2 separate regions of the Homo sapiens genome follow, and region 2 is linked to region 1. Evidence: fine-mapped expression QTL. Tissue or cell type: testis. Region 1 holds a variant in brackets; the other region holds the start of a gene. All regions are shown on one strand. Distances are from middle to middle.

Region 1 (11,377 bases):
GTAGTCAAACTGTATATTTATGAGCTATTATCCAAACTTTAAATTAGAAACCACTGAAGAACATGTGCATATTGAACCTGTGTTCATTTTACAATATTTGCTGGCATAATTTTAGTGGGGAAAATTATTCAGACTTATATAATTCTAATAACTTTGGTTTTATGACATTGTTGGGTATATATATATATGATTTATTTGATGCCAAAACATTGGTTAGGAAGGCAATAGCTAATTATAACTTTTTCATGGTAAATCACTTTCATTTATATGGCATGGTTTCTACTAGCAAACTATGAAAAGTAGAAACTACTACTAATAAATGCTTCTGTGCATAAACACATTCACTGAGCAACTGAAACAAATTGCTCAGGATCAAAATTTGGTCGAATCATAGGACTCTGGAAGAATCACGTTATATATTGCCAATTTTGAATCATTATCACTACCACTCTTTTTCCCAATTTACCACAGTAAGTATTTGGTCCAGAATCTCTTCATCATTGACTCTGATGTATTTACTCTGTCAAGCAGATTTTGTCCTTTTTTTCCTTATGGTATCTAGTACTAAAAGAATTTTATTCCATACATTTTCTGAGAAAATCTAATTTGCTTTTCCAATTGCTTAGAATTAGTCTATTGGCAGACATGGAGGCCCTTAAGGAGCCATTTGCTCTCTCAGTTTAGTGTGCAGAACAAATTAGTACTTCCCAAAATAATACCAATTAAGCTAACGTTAAAAAGTTAGTATCTATGTTAATCTCAGGAGACAAGTTATCGCATCCCTCCAAAAGGGCTGCCACTCAAGGGCAATGCTTTTCAGATTGCATAGTATGCTACTTTTATATTATTCTCCGAAGATCTGCTTTTGCTAGATGCTATCTACCATTACTATTTCTACTGCTGCTGCTGCTGCTGACACACTATTACACTTATATACAGACACCATATTTTTTCAATCCACAAATTTTAGCATTCATTTTGACAATTGTACTGGGTAGGAGTTCAAAAGACCTGAATTCTTTTTCTAATTCTTTTAAAACTACTGTGTGACATTAGACAATCATTTTAATATTCTATCAGTCATTTCCTCATTTGAAAAATTAGCACACTGGACTAAATCAACTGGTGCGCTAATGCTCTTGGACCAATTTTGGTAAATAGTGTTTTATTGCAACATAGCCATGTTCCTTCATGTATGTATGTGTATAACTACTTTCATACTGCAACACCAGAGTTGAATATTTGCATCACAGACCCTATGACCTGTAAGCCTAAATATTTATTATGTGTACCTTTCAGAGAAAGTTTTTCAATCCTGGATCAAATGATCAAAGTTTTTTTTCCAGTTGTACACATTTATCACTCAAGAAGATTCTGGTGGAAAAAAAATCTTAGCCTGCCTACCAAATATGAAAATAGTTTTAAATTATTTAATTTTCTCTTGTGAAACTTCTCCAAATTACAAAGTCATCCCAGTTCATTTAAATACAGAGTTATCACAAGTGATAGTCCTATTGAGTGAAGACAGAGTGATAAACCCAATGGTAGTCATATTTTTTAGCAGTTTGCCCATTTTTCTAATACTTCAATATTGTCGTCTCAATTATAAGAGATGTAGCTTAATCCTAAATCCATCTACATTTATTGGGAGATTTTTATTCAAAGTCCATTTTGAAAAACAGTCACATTTCTCAAATTGTCAGAAATCAAATGGAAGAAAAAATATAAAGTGAAAATATAAATGACAAATTCCTAAATTTATAGGAAAAAAATGTAGATGTATATAGAGATTGGAAGTATATGTATGTTTACACTAATTGGTAGAAGATATTAACAGTGAAGGCCCTAGTTTTATTATACATCAGGGAGGATGATTGGCATTCATATTGGATTGATGCCTAATGTGTTTTCTTTTTCTGTGACTTTCAAAGCACTAAAATGAAAATATGTCAATTATGTGGCCACTGGGAAGTGATGAACCGTCAATTTTCAAATTAGTAAAAGATCTTAAAACCTATGATCAGGAACTTAATTGCACATTAGAGGCAAATTGGGAATTACTGCAGCATTGTGAGAAGAGAGTGAAAACATCAATTTATTGTGAAACTTTTTGACTGAAGAATGGAAATAAATTACAGAGCACAACCAAAGTCACACCAGAGAAACCTAGGACAGTTATATAAATGAGATTTTCCTTCTCTCTTACTTCTTACAAGATCTTTATCAGCTGAGCTATCATATGTGTTTATCTTGTTTAATTTTAGTTTATATAAAATATTGTGGTAGAGTTTTGGCAAAAATGGGCACAACTATTCCCTCAATGGTATCCACATCTCTTGCAGTGTGGTTTTGGCGGTGCTGCCATTAAAACGTGGAGTCCATTTCCCTACAACTTAAATCTGGGCTGGCCTTATGACCTGGTTTGGCCAACTGAATTCAATAGAATTGTTTATATACTAGTTTTGAACAGACTTCATGAGACGTTTCTTTCTTCTACTCTTTCAAAGGAAGTCCCAATACCCTTCACATCACAATATTTTAAAAGCCCTATATAGTCTCTGCAGCATTGAAATAGGGTTGGCTTTTGTATTCAGTAGAATGCAGCATCAGAGACAGTTTCTGACCTCTTAAACCAGGTGAGAAGTACATTATGTCTGGACTTCTGGAGTAGTAACATGGGGAAGCCAGCTACCAGTTATAAGGACACACAAGCAGTCTCATGGAGAGAGTTTAACATGGAGAGAAACCTCCTTGTCAGTACCAGCTCGCCAGCCATATGGCTGAACTACCTTGGAGAGCGATCCTCACACCCTAGTCAGGCCTAAAGATGACTGGAGTTGCAGATGACATCTGACTACAGCCTCACAAGAAACCACAAGCCAGTATTGTCCAACTGAGCTGCTCCTGAATTCCAGCTCCACAAACCCTTCAATTGCTATCCTTTGACTGTTTGGTTTTTTTATATGTTATACAACTATTTCTAACAATAAAGGGTAACTGAACAGGGTACGGGGGCTTTAGCTGCATGAGGAACTATGGCCTGTTGGTGGTGGCAGAGGTAGTATGGGCAAGTATGATGCATTTAAATTTCTCTGTCTTAATAATTTGTTTCCCTACAATGAGCAAATTCTGATTCAAAATGTTTGTCCTTTTCTATTCATTCTTCGATTTCATGAGATTGTATTAATTTTATTTGTGTGTGTGTGTGTGTATATGCACGCACACACACACACACACACACTCACTCTTATTGTTTGATGTATCAGCTTTACATATCTTATATCTGGCTTGTTAAAGAGGAGGAGTTTGGCATAACTACATTACCACAAAAATTATTATAATCTTTGAGCTCTCAAATTTTGCTAGTTATACAAATGCTACATTAGATAGATAGATAGGTAGATAGATAGACAGATAGAGGTTGAGAGAGAGAGAGAGAGAAAGAAAAAGACAATGTCTCACTCTGTTGCCTAAGCTGGCCTGCAGTGATGTGATGATAGCTCACTGCAGCCTTGACCTCCTGGTCTCAAGCGATCCTCCTGCCTCAGTCTCCAGAATAGCTGGGACTACAGGCACATACCACCATGCCTGCCCATTTTTAAAAATAATTTTGTAGAGATAAGGGCTTTGCTAAGTTGCCCAGGCTGGTCTCAAACTCCTGGCCTCAAGTGATCCTCCTGCCCTGGCCTCCACTGGGATTATAGGCATAAGCCACTGCACCAAGCCCATCATCACTATTTTTAATCATAGTATTAACTATATTCCTTACATTTATGTTAATTGTCAAATATTTCCTTTCTGCTAGTTTTTAACCATTCATCTCTTAGTCGGCAGAAGTTTGTTCCTTAGGAGATAGTTTCTTCAAGAAGACTCATGGGAACTGAATTGCATGGCCACAACAATTTATTCTTGTCTTTATACTTGAATGGCTGGAAATACAATCATTAAGTCAGATTTTCTTTAAGGATTTTAAAGACATTGCTCTAATACTTTTTAGTATTCAATGTATTATTTGGAAAATCTGAGGTTAGCCTGACTGATTTTATACCAAGACTGAATTTAATATTTTTGATAAGCTGCCAAGGGTTCTTCACTTTTTTTTTTTTTTTAAATCTAACATTTACTAAGTGATTAGCATATGTTATGAAATAACTATACAGGAGGTTTAATCCTTATCCCCATTTTTATAGATAGAAAAACTGAGGCACAGAAAGTTAAGTGAGTTTCCCAGTGCCATACAGGAACTAAGTGACTCAAATTTTTCCAAAATAGTGGCAAGGGTCCCAGAAAGACTGATTCTCCAGTTCTAGGAATATTGAACTTGGGTTTTCTTTCTGTGTTGTCAATCCTGAACAACATGCATGTTGTATCCTTCTTCTCAGCATTCTTTGCTCATTTGCATAGATTCAATTTTTTAACGTTTTTTTTTTCTTTCTGTTGAAGCACTCCCTTTAACACTTTTCATAGTACAGATCTGGTGGTGAGAAATTCTCTGATTTTTGTCTAAAATGTCTACATTTTTCTTTGACTTTTGAAAGCTATTATTGCTGGGTATAGAATGCTAGTTGATTATTTGTTAGCACTCTAAAGATATCACTCCATTGTCTTCTGTTATGGAGTCATTCATATCTTGGTTCTTTCTGTGCATAATGTTATTTTAATCTCTTGTTGCCTTTAAAATTCTTTATTACTGGTATCAGCACATTCAGTTAAAATTTAGCTTGGTGTGGTTTTCTATGTGTTTATCTAGCTTAGAGTTCCTTGAGTTTCTTAGATCCCTTTAGAGCTTTCCTTAAATGACCAAAAATCCTGACCATTATTTTTTTAAGTCTACCTCTCTTTTTGTATTTTCCACTGGAGCTACCATTCTGTGTGTGTTAGACCACTTCAAATTATTGATTATTTATCCATTTCTTTTCAATCTTTGTTCCCTGTGTGAGTCACTTTAAATGATTTTCTGCCCTATATTTAAATTGTCTAATTTTTTCCCTGCGGGATCTAAGTTGCAGTTAATTCTATCCATAATACATTCATTTATTTTTCATCATTACAAGTTCCATCTGGCATTTATTTTTTATCTCAAATTTCTTTTCTTGTTATATTTTCCCTTTCATCCATGAGCATATTGAATGTATTTATAATAGTTTAACATCTTAGTTTGTTATTGATAGTTTCACCATCTCTGTCATTTCTGGATATGTTTCTACTGACAGAGCTTTCTCCTGGTTATGGGTCAATTCTACATCTGTCCTGATGAATAAAGAGCTTTTTATAATTAGTATTCACTGCTCAGAAATAAAGATTATATGCTGGGCTGAGAAAATACATTATTAAGGTGAAAAAATATACTCTATCAAAGCTCTTCAATCCTGTTTCCCATTTCCAGTTATAAAGAAATCACATAAAATCAAACATTTGAGAAAATTCAACAAATTCAAGGTGAATTGAAATCAAAACACAGACAAAATTAACATCCAAGGGAAAGTAACTAAACAGTAAAAAGGAAAAGTAAAATTTTAAACACATGAAATATTTGTACAAAATTTCTTTAGAATAATTCAACTGAAGAAAACAAACTAAAACACAACCAAACACTTTTGATAAGAAACAACTTCCTTTTGAAAGTTAAAAGCAGCTGCATGAAGAACAATTTCTCAATAGATAGGTAAAATAGCAGGGAGTGGGGGATACATGACAGAAGATTAAACAACTAACTTAGAAGATGGAACTGAGCATTTCTTCCAGAACATGAACTAAAAGAACAAAATGATGAAAAACATGGAAAGATGAAGAATAGAGCCAGGAGTTCCAACATTTGTCTAAGATTTTCAACAGTTGTCTACTTGGAAAATACATACAGAAGGAATATAATATAAAATAATAGAGAGAAAAAAATCTCTGAGCTGGAAAAACAACTAAACAAAATTGTTTCAGATTGAGAGACCAGCAGAAATACAAGAAAAGGCAAATATCTTAAATAGACTAATAAAATATTATAAATCCAAGGAAAAGAAAATTCTAAAAACAGAATAAAAATAAAAACAAAACAGATTTGCTAACAACAATTCCAAAGTTTTGTATTCATCTCTCCAGGAATATTTAAGAAATCTGAAGACTCCCCCACTTATTACTATTTTTAGTGTAAACAGGAATTAATCTAGGGACAAAATAGGTAAACAAAATTTTAATTGTGGGATTCCACTCTCCTTTTACCTTATTTTACCTTATTTTTTCCATGGCACTTGGTAGCTTTTTACATACTGTATAATTTACATATTTATGAAGCTTAATGGTTATGTTTCCTTTAAGGAGAATATAAGCTCCATGTAGGTAGGTGTTTTTGTTTACTGATTGCCCCCAAAACTTAGAATAGCGACTGAAACAAAATAGTTTCTCGATATTATTTGCAACATAAATTCTTTATAATAGAAAACATTGGAAGCTACTTTAATGTTCATCAATAAGAAAATGGTTATATGATATACAGTACATACCCAGATCATGTACTGGTTAAATAAAGTGACAAAATTCTG[T/C]ATTATTGAATGCAAAATCACAAGCCCATCTGTAAGCATGTAAATGTCTAAAATAAGTAGTAAAGTATATTCTGAAATACTAAGTATAATTATTACCAGTTGGAATTGAGAAATGGTCAGTCAATAGTCAAGAAGTATTTTACAAAAGCTTATGTACCAGGTAATATTATAGGAATTGGGGTATACCAGTGAACAGGTTCTTACAGCAAAGATGATTACATTTTAGTGAGTAGAAAATAATTTACAAGCATAACTAAGATAATTTCAGAAACTGAGAAGTACTACAAAGAAGATAAAACAGGGTTGTATTGTGGAAATTAACATGGGAGATGTTGACTGTCTTTTATGGGTTGGTTGACTTATTTTATAGTTTGGTCTGATGGTATCTCTGAATGACGAACGTTTAAGCTGAAACCTGGATATGAGAAGGAGGGCAGTATAAAGATCATGAAGATTTAGAGAATAAGCATTGGAAGAAGAAAAAGGAAAGAACAATCAGCAAATGCAAAAGACCTGGGATGCAAATGTACCCAGCATAAGCGAAGGGCGAAGAAAGACCAAGGCATATGGAGCATAGCAAGTGAGGACACGGCTTGAGGGGACAAAATGAAAGAGGTAGGCCAGGGCCTCATTTCAGTCACTTGACTTCAACATTGGAGTGTGTGTTTAATGCGGGGAGCATCAGTGGTGATATGGCTTGGCTGTATCCCCACCCAAATCTCAACTTGTAGTTCCCATAATCCCCAGTGTCATGGAAGGGACAAGGTGGAAATAATTGAATCATAGGGCGATTTCCTCCATCCTTTTCTCCTGGTAGTAAGTTTCATAAGGGGCTTCCCCCTTGGCTGGGCACTCATTTCTCTCTCCTGCCACCATGTGATGAAGGACGTGTTTGTTTTCCTTTCCGCCATGATTGTTAAGTATCCTGAGGCCTCTCTAGACCTGTGGAACTGTGAGTCAATTAAATGTCTTTCCTTCATAAATTATCCAGTCTCGGTCAGTTCTTTATAGCAGTGTAAGAATGGACTAATACAAATGGGATTTCAGAAATTCAGAGTTGTGGTCTGATTCTCACTTATAACTGGTATCATGGTCAGGAGGACCAAGGGTGAGTCCAGACAGAAACCTGTTAGAAGCTGATATAGTAATCCAGGTGAAAGATTGTGGTGACTCTGAGCAGTGTGGTGAGCAGTAGGGCTTTCACTTATCAACATCTATTCTTTTGTGTATCCTTTCTTCCTGTCTTTCTCTGTGCTCTTCCCCTTTTCTCTTTGTCTCCCTCTCTCTCTCTTCGAGCACATAAATTTTGTGCTCCTGGCTACAAAGAAGTCTCTCCAAAATTCATATTATTCTAGATAAAGCTTTAGAGATAATTGTAGTAGTGACACTGATTAGTAGCAGTACTAACTGTGGCAGACGGTTTGAAAATAGAGACTTATTTCATCCCACTTATATGGCTTTGGGGTGTATTTAGTTTCAAGGGGGAGGTGCCATCTTTGCTATATTCATTTACAATCCATCATATGTGCTGCAATGGGAAGGGGCATCCACATTTGTTGTGTTTTCAATGGCTTGTCAAAAAGAGCTGACCTAACAGACATTCAGAGTATTTGGAGAAATACTTGTTATACTCTAAAGTGTTTTCAAATAACGGTTTTCAGACTCAGGGCAGAATTGGAAATGTACTGAAATGTTTAGAAATCTCTCTCCACTATAGGGATTTTGCTATTTGTGTCTCGTAGGAAATAGCTTTCCATAGGCATAAATTTGACAGTAATTATGTCAAAGACAACTAAAAATCTGATTTGCTAACATCCATGAAGGAAGAAGTTCAGGTTACTAAATTAGAAATGTCTACTTTGGATCTGAAAATAATTTCTTATATCCCATAGGAGAAAAGATGTGACTGACCCAGTCTCTGCAAATAGTTAAAGGAAGAGGTATGATTTCACTCCTAATTGGCTTTCTAAGTCAAACACTTTGTTAACACTTGGTATGCATGACATTTTGGAGAGTATAACACCTTGTCAGTTCATATTTGACCCACTTATGTGGGGCCAGTGTGCCAATAAGGGCAAAGCTAAGTCAGGCTGGTACCCATCATAGCACTGCTGTTTATAATGCCAGCAACTTTGAGTTTGGCTTGTTTTGTTAATTTCTCATTGAACTGCATTTCTCCTGTAGAATAGAAAGCATCACTATATGGATTAAGTTACTAGATAGTAGAAATAACTATGCTTATTGGCATAGTAGTATTAACATAGAAGACAGAAAATGAAAATAAAATATCCATGTGAGAAACATAAAAAGTACTACAGTCCTGCAAATATCAGGTGAATATACTGCTTTGTGGTCTACTAGATAAACTAGAAATGAATAGAAAATACTTGTGAGAATTTTAATCCCCAATTCCTATTTATTAATTTTGAGTATGTATAGCATCTGAACATTAGAGGCATTGTGTCTTAATTGCTAAACCAGCTATGATTATGCTTTCTATAGTAGAAAATGTTGATGTTCAACTCAGTAGAAACCATTGGATAATTAAGTTCAGTTCATGTCTGCTATAATGGCATTCTGTATGCTTTAGCATTTGTCACTTTCAAAAGTATCCCAGTTTTGATGACAAACAGCATGGGCACCATAGCATTTAGGACCCTCTTGCTAATTTTGTTCAGGCATCCACCATATCCCCCAGTCAGACCAAATGACTCAAAGGAAGGTGACTATCTCCATCTGCCGGAGTGGGTCCTGATATGTCTAATCCAGAGATTGACTTAGAAACTCATGTTATGCTTTATCTAATCAGCAGTAGGCATTCTCCCAGGGACACTTTAAACTCTTGATCTTTATGGTGTACACATGACCTAAGTTATCTGACTCAAAATAAAAGGAAATTTTTCATAGCTGGGGAAGAGGGAAAGTTGTCTCTCCTTTAGAAATAAACAGAAGGATATGGTCTTTATGTTTGAAGGCAATTATTTTGCACCCATGAGGGTAGGTAACTTAAAGATGAAGCTGAATCAGACAGGCGAATTAAGGAAATCGCTGGAGTCCTACTCATAGCCCACTGGAAGACAATCTACCTTCATACATCCTATTCTTTAAGATAATGAATTCCTTTATTGTTTATGCCAGTTTGAGGCAGTATTTTTAAAAAATAAAATATCCTCATAAATACACTCTTATGAGGTTTTTCTAAAAATAAGATTTTTCAAATAAAATGTTTTACACAGTGTTTGAAATAGTAAACACAGTAATTTATTTTTAACATATCTGGGAGAATGCTGTTACAGTAAATCTAAGTGCAAATACTCAAATTTATAGAATTTTGGACCTTAGATATGCAAAATTCTTTTATAAACTCAAATAAGAGCACTTTCTAGAGAGATGAGATATTTTCTCATATCAGCAACCAAAATCTAGACAAATTAGGTTAGAAGCTAGTAAGTACTTAGGTATTCTTTCTCTGGATATAACAACTTCTCTTCAGCCACATCACTGTTTCTTACTTGAGTGGACACAACTTGTGGTTAAACACCAGCCTGACTCAATGAACTATCATGGACATCTGCGTGAGTATATAAATGTGTACATGTTTCTGGACATCCAGTGTGTAGTCATTCTGCTTCTAGTAATAACATTCAAAAATTGGGAGGAGAGAATCTACTCCTTTCCTTTGTTAACCTATGTGGTTTGAAGAGGGTTCTACCCACTCTTCTAAGGCAAAGCATGTGTTCAAAGTCAAGTTGGAATCAGGGCATCATTTTCTCCCTGGCCAGGAATAAATATTTACCATAGCAGTGTACCTGAGCAGCATGTTAGTTGCTCACTGCATGCAGAGTCCAATTAACAAGATCAAGGTCTGGTGTAAAGAGGTTTATTCTGAAGCTAGCTTAGAGGAAGAGGCCCAAGCATCCTGTCTTTAAATGTAGTGCTTCACTTTTGGAGCAGGAAGCAGGTACTTTTATAAGGCAGGGAAGGAAGCAAGAAAAGGTGGTGGGTCAGCATGCTAGCTTGGTACCAGGGAGTTGAGTTGGCACCTCCATGGGCAGAAATAAGTTGTAAAAGTAGTCAAGTGGGCATGCTTTTGACATGGCTTCCTGGCGATGAGAGTTCCAAGGTTACTCCCTGGAGGGTGAGAGTTCCGAGGTGGGCATCCTTTGGTCTGTAACTTGACCATTAACTCTCAAGGAGAGTTCCATCTTAGAGCACATGGTTAAATATAGTTGCCCTGTAGGGATTGCCTGGTGAAGGGGAGGTAAAGGGTTATATTTGCATTTCTAAAATGCTGAGTAGGAGGCAGGGAACAGGGGAAAGGAGAAAATAGAAAATTTTAAAAAATAATAATAGTAACTCAGCCAGATGCTATGGTGCACACCTATAATCCCAGCAGTTTGGGAGGCTGAGGCAGGCAGATTGCTTGAGCCAAGGAGTTCAAGACCAGCCTGGCCAACATAGTGAGACCCTGTCTCCACTAAGAGAAAAACACAAAAATTAGCCCAGACATGTTGGTATATGCTTGTAGTCCCAGCTGCTCACAAGGCTGAGGTGGGAGGATCATTTGAGCCTGGGAGGCAGAGGCAGCAGTGAGCCAAGATTGCACCACCGCACCACTGCACTCCAGCCTGGGTAACAGAGCAAGACCCTGTCTCAAAAAAAAAAAAAAAAAAAAAAAAAGTAACCCATTCCCTTTTTCCTAGAAAGAATGGGGGTACTTGGTTACATTAAAACCAACCAACCAGAGTTAGAATCACAAGGCTTCTGCTAACACAACTAAATAATAGTGTGTTCTCATTCTGCACTTCAATTTTTGAGAGCTTTTGTGGTTAGACCTGCTACTA
Region 2 (11,377 bases), 53 kb before region 1:
AACTGGGAAGAAAGCTAGATGAAAGTATAGAAAAGTTAAAAGCTTTTGGAGAAATACACCATAAATTTCAGTGGGATATTCAGGGTCCAGAAGATTGGAAGCAGCATGACCAGCTGGTAGCCCTGACAAGAGCTTGTTAAATTCCTAATGAACCCCAATAATCTTGTTGCCTGATTATGTTTTGATGAGTGCTTAAGATGTTTAAGCTTAAAAGCTCTTCTTGGACACTATTTTCATTTACCATTGGGCCTCTAAATTGAAATTGTCTCTAAGGCTCCCCGATAATGGCCTTTTAGATTTTCAGTGTTGGGTAATATGGAAATATCTTAGAATCTAAATGCACAGTGGGTCCATGGGAACAGAAAGATTCTCATGCATGAGAAGCTCCATAAAACATCTATAGCATTGTCTTAGGTTGCTTGGAGAAACTGCATTCATATTCATAATGTATTGTATAATTATGAGATCCTGATTTTCATATTTCCCAGTGTGCCTTTTCAGCTCTGCTGTATAACCAAATTAAAGGAGACTACACAACTTTACAAAATTAGAGTGTTCTGTTTTGTATATTGCTGTTTGACAGTACTTTATTTTTAATTTGTTCATCATTGATCCTAATAAAGACAAACTGTCATTTTAACCATTGCCTGGAATGTAATACATTAGTTTTATTGCATCTATAACAGCTGCTTATGTGTCTCTCCCTCTGTCTTTCAATGATGAGTTGTCCTTTTCTCTAGGCAGTGCCAGGAAATCTGGAAGAGCTCACAACACCTCTATATAAACTGGATTAAATAGAGGAAAATTTAATTGTATGTTATTATTGTACTTCTACTACTTAATACAGAAAGGGGATATATAAAAGAAAGGCACTTCATGCATACATGATGAATAAACGAAGAATAAATATTTTACTTTTTTAAATTAGCTTTGTATTTGCCTAATTCCTTGGCCTCAGTTTCCTCTTCCAGAAATTGGGAATGAGACACTAAACCATATGAGGGTCAAATGAGCAAACTGTATTTCCTGGAGATACAAACTTCCTTAACTTTGTATCTCTAGGAAAGAGATGCAAGTCTATTCTATCACATACCTGGGAAATATTTATGATGTTTTATATCTCAAATTAATGCATGTAATAATCGAAAAATTCATTCTCATTATTAAAAAAAATTATTTGCCAAGAAAAATGTGCTTATATGTCTGTACATATTCACAGGTATCTCCTATGAATCTATTTGGACAGAATCTATACAGGTCTAAGTTTACGATGTAATAGATAACACTGTGCCCTAGCTTAGATGTAAGACAGGGCAAAGAAAACTGAAGATGTGGTCAACAGTAGGTTCTTAAAGTGGGGTGCATGATTAGCAATCTTCCTCAAAGTCTGTTTCTCTCAAGATTTGTGTTTGTCAAATGTGCTGCTCAAACTTCCTTCTAGGGGGCAGCAGTGCCCTGGATTTTTGCCAATATTCCTTCCTCTCTCTTTAAACATCCGTCAGTGACTTAGGTCTTCTTCAAAGAGGCAAAGTCAAAGGAAATAGTCGTGGTAATTTTGTTATTACATGGGCATACTGATATTAGAAACAGTTAATATTCCACCAAAAGTCATTAGAAGGGTTGTGGGAGGGCATATATAAAGAAAACGTAATAACATGGTACAGTTAAGAGGAAACTAATATATTAAAACGACTGCACAGAGGAGAGAAGCCCTCATTGCAATATTGAATATATAGCATTCATTTTTACTAGCATATTTTGTGTATACTTTATTGCTAGTATAATAAAATCAAGGTTACTAGGGGTAAATGTATGTTTATTTGCAGAATAAAAATTTGAGACATGGGGTTTTAAGTATGTGAGAATTAAAATCTGCTAAGTACAAGATTTGCCCAAGAAGTGTAAAGATTTTAGGAGAACAGGCAAATAGATTTAACTCTGACTTGGACTTTCTTGAAACTGCTGTGATTTGTCAGGAATGTTTATTGAATTAATGATTTTTCCTTTGAATGGGGATTGTGGTTTTACAAAGCAACTCAAAATATTGAGCAGGAATCAGTTCAAAACTCTTGACTCATGTTCTAGTCCTCTACTGGTTGAGACACCAGACTGTAGTAAATCTTGACAACAGATTTTATACATAAAATTTTACTTCTTATGTCACTTGGCCATATTCAATTACAGCTCTAATTATAGAGAAGTTATTAAAATGTTCGCAAAGTTTTATTTTACAATTTTGCTTCATGATCTCTTTTATCATATATGTTAGACCCTCATCCCAAACTCTTGAAATAGTGGATTTAGCACTAGGAGCATGATGACTCAGATGACTCCGGTCATCTATCAGGAGAAAGATGGTGGTCCATCTGTTACACTAAAAATTAACCCACAATGTCTTCCTTTTTCTCACACCATCATTATCTGGGTAGGATGAGAAGCACTTCTACTTTACCTCTCATTTCTAATTAAGTCTTCTCTTTGAATTAATCTATCCTGGATTTTTATTTTAATCATATTTCAAATATAGTAAGATCATACAAGAAAAAATATTGTTTGCCCAAGCCTCTGAAGTGTTCTGGAATAGCTTTGCTTATTGTAATATTAGAGAGAAACTTTGCTTGATTGTCATCATTTTTCAAAATATATGGTACTGACATTGTGTCTTTTCTCCAACAGAGAAATTCTTCTCAGAGTTATATATATATAACTTGTAATTTTTGCACTAAGTTCTTACTCATCACTCTTAATTGCCAAATCTTAGAGCTATGAAAAAAATACACTGCCACTAATCATCTAATGAGATCTGATATTGCTTATCTAGAAAATATTCACTCTTTAACAGCTTTCTTCACCTAACATTTGGTGAAAAAGTGCAATAATTACTGAAGAAATGTAAATATCCTTCAAACATTCTCACTGTTCTTTTTCACATTTCCTTGTCTATTATTTAAAAAATATGTGTTATTGATGCCATGGGAGTGACACTTTTAAGATAAATTCAGAAATACCCCTGTAGGATCAACCATCAGACATGAAATGTGAAATGCTGTCACACTGGCATGAATGACTGCTACTATAATCACTGGCTCTTCTTTTATAGGGGTTTTTATTAATTAAATGTAAAGTCTGCCATTGGCCTTATAAGAGTGCTCATCTGTTTTCCTTTAATTTCAAGTAGATTAAAAGTGAGATTTGGTGTTAATTAAAAACTTAGAATTTATGGGGTTTCTAATTGCAAATAACATTTCTGTGGTGAGTACGTAGATGACTTCTTAGTTCTGTTTGGTAATCAACATAGTATTGAACAAGGACAGGACAAAAAATAAATCATTTGAAGAAAAGAACACCATCATTGGCTCTATTGTCCGTGAATAGCTTGAATCCTATCTAGCTGGGGGGCATGTAAGAGGAGAAGCTCAACAGCTCAGGATAAACATTTTACCCTGATGTCTGGAAATTTCATTCTTTCTTTGAAAAATGTAGATGGATTTGGAAGGATAGCAATAAAAGTCAAAAAGTCATTATCAAGATTAATCAGTTTAATTGAAATGCTTCAACATTGTTTGATTTCAGATGTCTATTTTTAAGTTGAATTTAGGATATATAGGGTAACTGATGACCAAGAGGTCTATGGGAGTTTCACATTTTATTATTTATTATCTTAACTAGATCCTGTTGAGAAATTTTTTTTTTTAAAGGACATCTTCTGTGGGAACCCGTAGTACAGATATTTTCCAATTAGCATCTTTGTATGTTCTCTTCTGGCATGAGTCGGGTTTAGGCTTGACACACTGGGCTTTTAAGGGGAGCTCTATCTTTGCAGTCCAGGCTACGTGTGACAAGATTAAATTGGCACACTTTACTGTACAGCTCTTGTGTTCCTGGCAGCACTGGCCTGGCTGATACCTCTGAGAGAAGGCTCAGCTGTCACTCACTGACCCATTAACACTACTGTTCTATCCTGCAGTGTCATTTTTCTCATTCTTATGGAGATAATGCTCCCTGGAGATCTCCAATACCTGGAGGAATGAAAGAGAACAGCAGAGACAGGCTAACTATCAAAGAGGGAGCAAACAACACAGCAAGACCATGAATTCCAACAGTTGAATTTTCAATTGAGTGAAAAGATGAGGCCTATTATGATGGCTGGGTTCAGAAGGTGGGGAGACGATCAAGTTTTAAGAGGTATCTTAACTTTTTAACAAGCTATTTTCTCTTTTCTTCCTGAATATTAAAAGAAGTGCCCAAAATAACACCTGCAACTAGATATAGAGAAGGCAGCTGCTTTGAACATGTAATAGGGACATTTGGGTAAGAATTTATCATTTGCAAATAGGCAATGGATATAAAACAGAGCATGCATTAAGGTGAATGGCTTAATATTCTAAATAAAACAGGATCCCTAGTTAGGGTTGGCTTATTGGGGCACAAAATCGCCTTCCTGGTAAAAGCACAAAAAGAGAGAAATGATATGTGATCTTTGTATCCCTTGGTCTAAGGCTTCTCTTCTCTTGTGATTGAACGGTTTCCAGTGGCATAAGCAAACTCTGTTGCTCTCTTGTAGTCCAAACTGTGTATTGTTTGGTGGGTCACTTTATAAGAAGTAACACTTTCTAATGGTTACTACATAAAAAGGCACTATAAGAACATGTTTCTAGATTTCCTGGACTAAGGCTGGTCCAGTTTGATTGATATGAAAGCAAAATAAATAAATAAATAAATAAATACCACCTGAAAGTCTATGGAAACCTGCTGAAGACATTTTTATAGAAAACCAAAAAGAAAAAAAAGAGGAAATAAACAAAAGGAAGAGCAAAAGTGAAGTAGTCAGAAAATAGGGATAAAACTAGGTAAAAACAGAGATTCAGAATTATTAAACAGAGTAAGGAAAAGTGGAATGTCACAAACTACAAACTTTTTACCACAATCTGCACCTCAACCCTCTCTCCCTGCTTCCAATTTTCCCACACCAAGCAAAGTTTATTACTGGGTTTAAAGTGTTATCCTCAGGCCGAGGTTTGTATACATTTTCCCTCCCCACTTCAAGTGTCACAGGTGCTAGACGCCATCAGGATAAATGTGGCATATTATTTGAGAGTACTGACTTTTCTTTAAAAGGGGTTTTTGTTAACGTGCGTGTGCTTGTTTTGTTTTTAAAGTTAATTAAGCTACAAATAATTTACAGCTTTGTTGTTACCTTAAAATACATATGGCACATTATGGAGCAGGATAAATATTCATACCTATTTTAAAGATCAAAAACAAGACATTAAAGAAATATTGGTAGGAAGAAATACCTTTGGACTAACTCTCAGAACTCTCATGTGCCTTAGGGACTGAGTTTGTTCCTTTCTTCTATTTGATACGCTTGTCGGGAAAGCTTGAGATACAGTGCTCCAGGGTTTAACAGGGAAAAGGGACTCAGATTATTGAGGTTCAGCAATGACGGCGATTAGGATGCCCTGTAGTTTGCCCAAGTCCTCCAGAAAAGGAAATCACTTTTAGTCTTCATTTTACAGCTGGCAGGCACTGTACAAATCAGTCAGCTCAGGCTGCGTGGCCCATGTCCCAGTGCTGTGCAGGACCTGCCTCTATCACCCGTGTGCACTGCCCGGATGGTGCCAAGCGCATTGGAGCACCGGAAGGAGACGCGGAGCCGAGGCCAGGCCTTCCGGCGGTCGTTACGGGACGCCGCTGCCATCTACAGCACTCCGTGAAGAATATGCTGGCCGCCTTCATCTCCCGCGTGTTGAGGCGAGTTGCCCAGAAATCAGCTCGCAGAGTGCTGGTGGCATCCCGTAACTCCTCAAATGACGCTACATTTGAAATTAAGAAATGTGATCTTTATCTGTTGGAAGAGGGTCCCCCTGTCACTACAGTGCTCACTAGGGCGGAGGGGCTTAAATACTACAGGATGATGCTGACTGTTCGCCGCATGGAATTGAAGGCAGATCAGCTGTACAAACAGAAATTCATTCGCGGTTTCTGTCACCTGTGCGATGGTCAGGAAGCTTGTTGCGTGGGCCTTGAGGCCGGCATAAACCCCTCGGATCACGTCATTACATCCTATAGGGCTCATGGTGTGTGCTATACTCGGGGACTTTCTGTCCGATCCATTCTCGCAGAGCTGACGGGAAGAAGAGGAGGTTGTGCTAAAGGAAAAGGAGGATCGATGCATATGTATACCAAGAACTTCTATGGGGGCAATGGCATCGTCGGTGCACAGGGCCCCCTGGGCGCTGGCATTGCTCTGGCCTGTAAATATAAAGGAAACGATGAGATCTGTTTGACTTTATATGGGGATGGCGCTGCGAATCAGGGGCAGATAGCCGAAGCTTTCAATATGGCAGCTTTATGGAAATTACCTTGTGTTTTCATCTGTGAGAATAACCTATATGGAATGGGAACATCTACTGAGAGAGCAGCAGCCAGCCCTGATTACTACAAGAGGGGCAATTTTATCCCTGGGCTAAAGGTCGATGGAATGGATGTTCTGTGTGTTCGTGAGGCAACAAAATTTGCAGCTAACTACTGTAGATCTGGAAAGGGGCCCATACTGATGGAGCTGCAAACCTACCGTTATCATGGACACAGTATGAGTGATCCTGGAGTCAGTTATCGTACACGAGAAGAAATTCAGGAAGTAAGAAGTAAGAGGGATCCTATAATAATTCTCCAAGATAGAATGGTAAACAGCAAGCTCGCCACTGTGGAAGAATTAAAGGAAATTGGGGCTGAGGTGAGGAAAGAAATTGATGATGCTGCCCAGTTTGCTACCACTGATCCTGAGCCACATTTGGAAGAATTAGGCCATCACATCTACAGCAGTGATTCATCTTTTGAAGTTCGTGGTGCAAATCCATGGATCAAGTTTAAGTCCGTCAGTTAAAGGGAGGCTACGTGTGAATTTATCATCAGTCTCTCAATGGAATGTTCATGGTCAAATTTAAGAAACTGTGTTCTCAACTCAAGGAGGAATAAAACTCATAAAACAAAAGCCTTGTAAGCATTTATTAAAAGAGATTATTAAAAGAGATTGAAAGACATGCATTCAATAAAAGTGATATTATATTCAATTATACTGTATATTTTTGCATTAAAAGATACTATATAGGTAACAATTTAGTGTGAATATCTTAAAGATTATTTTGAACTTATACAAGTCTAAAATAGGAAAAGGAGATTATTTAACTTCCCAAACTGTTTGTCATAACAGTTCCATTTGATTTAGCTTTATACTATTTTAATGCATTCTCTTCTTTAAAAGAAAGTTGTTTCCTGCTTCCCCTGCCATGGGTTTCTATGTAGAATCACCATCCTGAGGTAAGGAGATTATTTCAAGCTACTCAGGACACCTATGGATATGTAACCATTTACTTGAATTACCTAATAACGAATACAGTTTAGTGTAACAGTGTGCGCATGCGCACACCCACACACGTGGTGCTGAAGTTTGTTAACACTGACCGTTTTTCCAATAATATATGATATTTAACAGGGCAGGGGAGGAAGAACAAGGATTTTTTTTTTTCATATTATTGTATCTTGTTACAATATTTTTAGTCTTTTAACCCTTAAGGAAAAATATAGCAAAAATTAAAATCTAGGGGAAAAACTGCATTCCGCTTTAATCTTTAAGTTAAAGCTACTCTTATTTTGCAGTTCATTTATGCCCTTATATATTCTAAAATTTAATGGGCCATTCTGGTGAATTTCAGACTGAAAAATGAATAAACAGAGATGGTGATTCAAAGAGTTAAGCAGAGGAGGTGACATTAATAAAAAGTTGAAAGTAAAATCTACCTTGCTTCTTACTAGCTGTTAACCATGCGTTACTAATCACTACATGATCAACTATTTAGTATCTTTTAATGCAACAGAACATTCACAGATAACTTTTTCCAAAGGAACACACAACATGTCTTTTCTGCAGTCCAGCACCATGTCAATTATCAAGTCATGATTTGGTGAAAGCAGTTTTACATGGTTATATTCGACTACTTAAAATCCTGCTGAGCTTGGTGTTTGGTGTATGTTATTTTTCTGAGAGCAGAGATGATAATTTGCCTGTGATTTAAGAATAGTAGGTGGAACATACCAAAACAGTCAAAGGTTAACCCTTTTTCTTTACTGTACAGCATCTACTTCTACAAATAGAACCTAGATTCTAAGAAATAAGAAAACCAAAAGCTCAGAGGCCTGGGAGAAGATGAACATATGTACATATATATACAGGCTTAATCTCCGTATCTTCTCCCAAACAAGTTTAAACAGGTAAGATAACCTAACATTCCGAATTCGGAAAGCAAAGATAAACATTGTTTTGCTTATATGTAAGTGATATTACTAGCTAACATGTTTTGATTAGAACACCGCAGTTGTTCAGAGGTGCTTGGACTGGATTCCTACAATTAAAAACAAAAAAGGATTTTTCATACGACATTCAGAATAATAAGTACATCCTTCTAATGATAAAGAATTCTTTTTATTTTTACATACTGATATTTTCACATATTTGCAAGTGGAAGATAAGCTGCTCAATTAAGGCTATTTTACATATGCAATATACAGAAATAATTTTTAAAGTTTTTCAATAGATTCTTTTGATGACAGCAAAAATTAAGATACAAATAATTGATTAGAAATGAAACCATCCCTAAATCAAGATACATAGATATTGTACTTCACTTCAGGGAAATAATCCAAATTTTGTTGTTAGAGGAATAAAGCATGTTTGTCACAACACAATATATGTTATCAAATTCCATTAAAGAAGGAGGTTTTCAATGTTTTCTATATTAAACAATGTTCAGATTTCTTGCATACATTGAGTAATTATAATCATATCACTGGTTACGCACAATTCTGTAATCATGCAAAACAAAAAAAAGCAACCGAAAAATTCAAACATGTTGTTTTCAATTAGGTCAAGATTTATTGCTTGACTAATGATAGCAATAATTTATCAAGCTGTAAACAAGAGAGGTGTAGAAATCTAGCAATTGGATTCTATTTCTTGTCTATAGTACTGGGTTACTCAATCTGTTTTATCCTCACGTTAAAATACCTACTAAGTTATGATAGTCATAATAAGAATTTCACTGCTGCAGCAAAGCTAGACTATCTGCGAAAAGGAAGAGTTCCTAATTTCTTAATCTTTATGATATGTTATAATGATAAAATATCATGTAGTGTGTGTGGAATGGAATAAGAAAGAAAGGAGCTTAAAGATTTATAAAGGGTATACTAGATTAGAATTACATTTTTTAAAAAAAAAATGGACATGTCTTCCCATCTAGTGTACAAAAACCAGAGCATATGGTTACAAAAATTTAACTTGAAATTTTGTAAGAGCTATGTTTTAAAAATTGAAACATAATTTTATAATTGAAATATAATTTTTACATATGCAATATACAGAAATAATTTTTAAAGTTTCACCCTTCTAAAAGTGCACAAGTCAATGATTTTAGTACATACACAAGACTATGCAATCACCACTGTCTAATTCTAGAATATTTTTATAATTCCCATTTTCAGTCAATCCTATTTCCCCTGGCAACTACTAATCTACTTTTTGTCTCTAGATTTGCCTATTCTGGACATTTCATATAAGCCACACAATATGTTGGTCCTATATGACTGGCTGCTATCCCTTAGCTTAATGTTTTCATGTTTCGTCCATGCTGTAGCATGTATCAGTACTTTAGTCTTTTTATGGCTGAATAACATTTCCATTTTATTTATCCACAAGTTATTGAAGATTTAGAATTTTTTTTCTACTTTTTGACTATTATGAATAAAGTGTTGCTGAGAAAAAATTCAATCACAAAGACAATAACAATTTTCAATGTATTGGCTAATGCAAACAATATCCCTTACGATGCAATCCCTTTTGATTATAAACAAATAATGATGAAGAAAAGTGTTAAAATACTTTAAGCCTGATATTTATCAACTTACATAATCTATTGCTCCAGTTGGATTTAGAATTACAATTTTAGATTTGCATAAAATTTGAGAACAGTATGCAGATGTACCACATGCCCTGCACCCAATTTCCCTTTTATTAACATTTTATATTAGTTTGTGGCAAGGAAAGAGTAAATTCAGCAGGCTTGAGTTACTCAAAGCCTGCACATTTAAGGAAAGACCTCTTTTCACACTCCTGGGAGATAATCTCTGAACACCTTGGAATATTCTACCTGATATGAATGTTTTTGTGAGCCTCAGGCCTTGGGCCATACTATGCCAATATGACCAGATTAGCTTATCTTAATGATGTGTCCCTCTTTTACTCCATTGAGAAGATATACCTGGAAACTTCTGCCTGCTTTCTCTTGAACTTCTCTTCATGTGTCTTTTTCCTTTCCTAATTTTAATTTGTATCCTTTCACTGTAATAAACCATAAGAAAAAACAATCCAGTTTTTTTAATTATACAGAATAAGAAGCTATATATAAAAGAGGAGGTCCAGAGATATTAAGTGGCTAATTCAGGTTCACATAGTAAGTGATAGTGATAGCTATTGTTATCAGTCCATTCTCATGCTGCTATAAGGACATACCCGAGACTGGGTAATTTATAAAGGAAAGTTTAGTTGACTCAGAGTTCAGCATGGCTGAGGAGGCCTTGGGAAACTTAACAATCATGGCGGAAGGGGAAGCAAACACATCCTTCTTCACAAGGTGGCAAGAAAAAGAATGGGAGCAGAGTGAAGGGGGAAGCCCCTTATAAAACCATCAGATCTCCTGAGAACTTACTTACTATCATGAGAATAGCATGGGGGAAGCCACCCCCATGATTCAATTACTTTCCACCAGGTCCATCCCATGACATATGGGGATTATGGGAACTACTACTGAAGATGAGATTTGGGTGGGGACACAGCCAAACCATATCAGCTACTAATCATAGCCACTATTCTATTTTACTAGACTGCTTTTGTGTACAAGACACTATGCTTAGTATTTTGTATACATTGTCCCACTTGATGTTTACAATATCCACATAATATAGGCATTATAATCTACATTTTACGAAAGAGGAAATTGAGGCACAAGTAAGTTGCTTAAGATTTTGCAGTTTACAAATGGAGGATGCAGGATTAAAAGCCAGGCAACAAAATCCATATTTTGAAAATTACTTTTTTGTACTGCTTTGTACAGTAATAACCAACCACAAAATCTGTTCTAAAAAGGTTCATTAATAAATGAATGAATACAATTAAACTAGAACTAAGGGATTTTATCAATTACTATGAACTGAGTCTAGATTGCAGGCCTAGAGTAGAAACACATAGACCAAGATTGGGAGGAAAACAGACACAGGATATAGGAAGTAAGGCAGAGTAAATATAGCCACAAAAGTTGTGATA

Evidence for each region. PIP is the estimated chance that this variant, and not a neighbour inherited with it, causes the effect.
Region 2: it holds the start of PDHA2, and the variant in region 1 is fine-mapped to the expression of PDHA2 in testis (GTEx, PIP 0.98).

The regions. Positions count from the first base shown.
Region 1 is chr4:95,887,058-95,898,434 of GRCh38, forward strand. No RefSeq gene overlaps it. Among named protein-coding and RNA genes, the nearest start is that of PDHA2, 53 kb to the left of the region's middle. The variant T/C (reference allele first, on the strand shown) is at 6,534.
Region 2 is chr4:95,834,429-95,845,805 of GRCh38, forward strand. PDHA2 (pyruvate dehydrogenase E1 subunit alpha 2) reads left to right here and starts at 5,665. Exons shown (of 1, transcript NM_005390.5): 1 at 5,665-7,036. The coding sequence starts at 5,723. The coding sequence ends at 6,889. RefSeq lists enhancers at 3,724-4,326, 5,182-5,683, 5,684-6,183.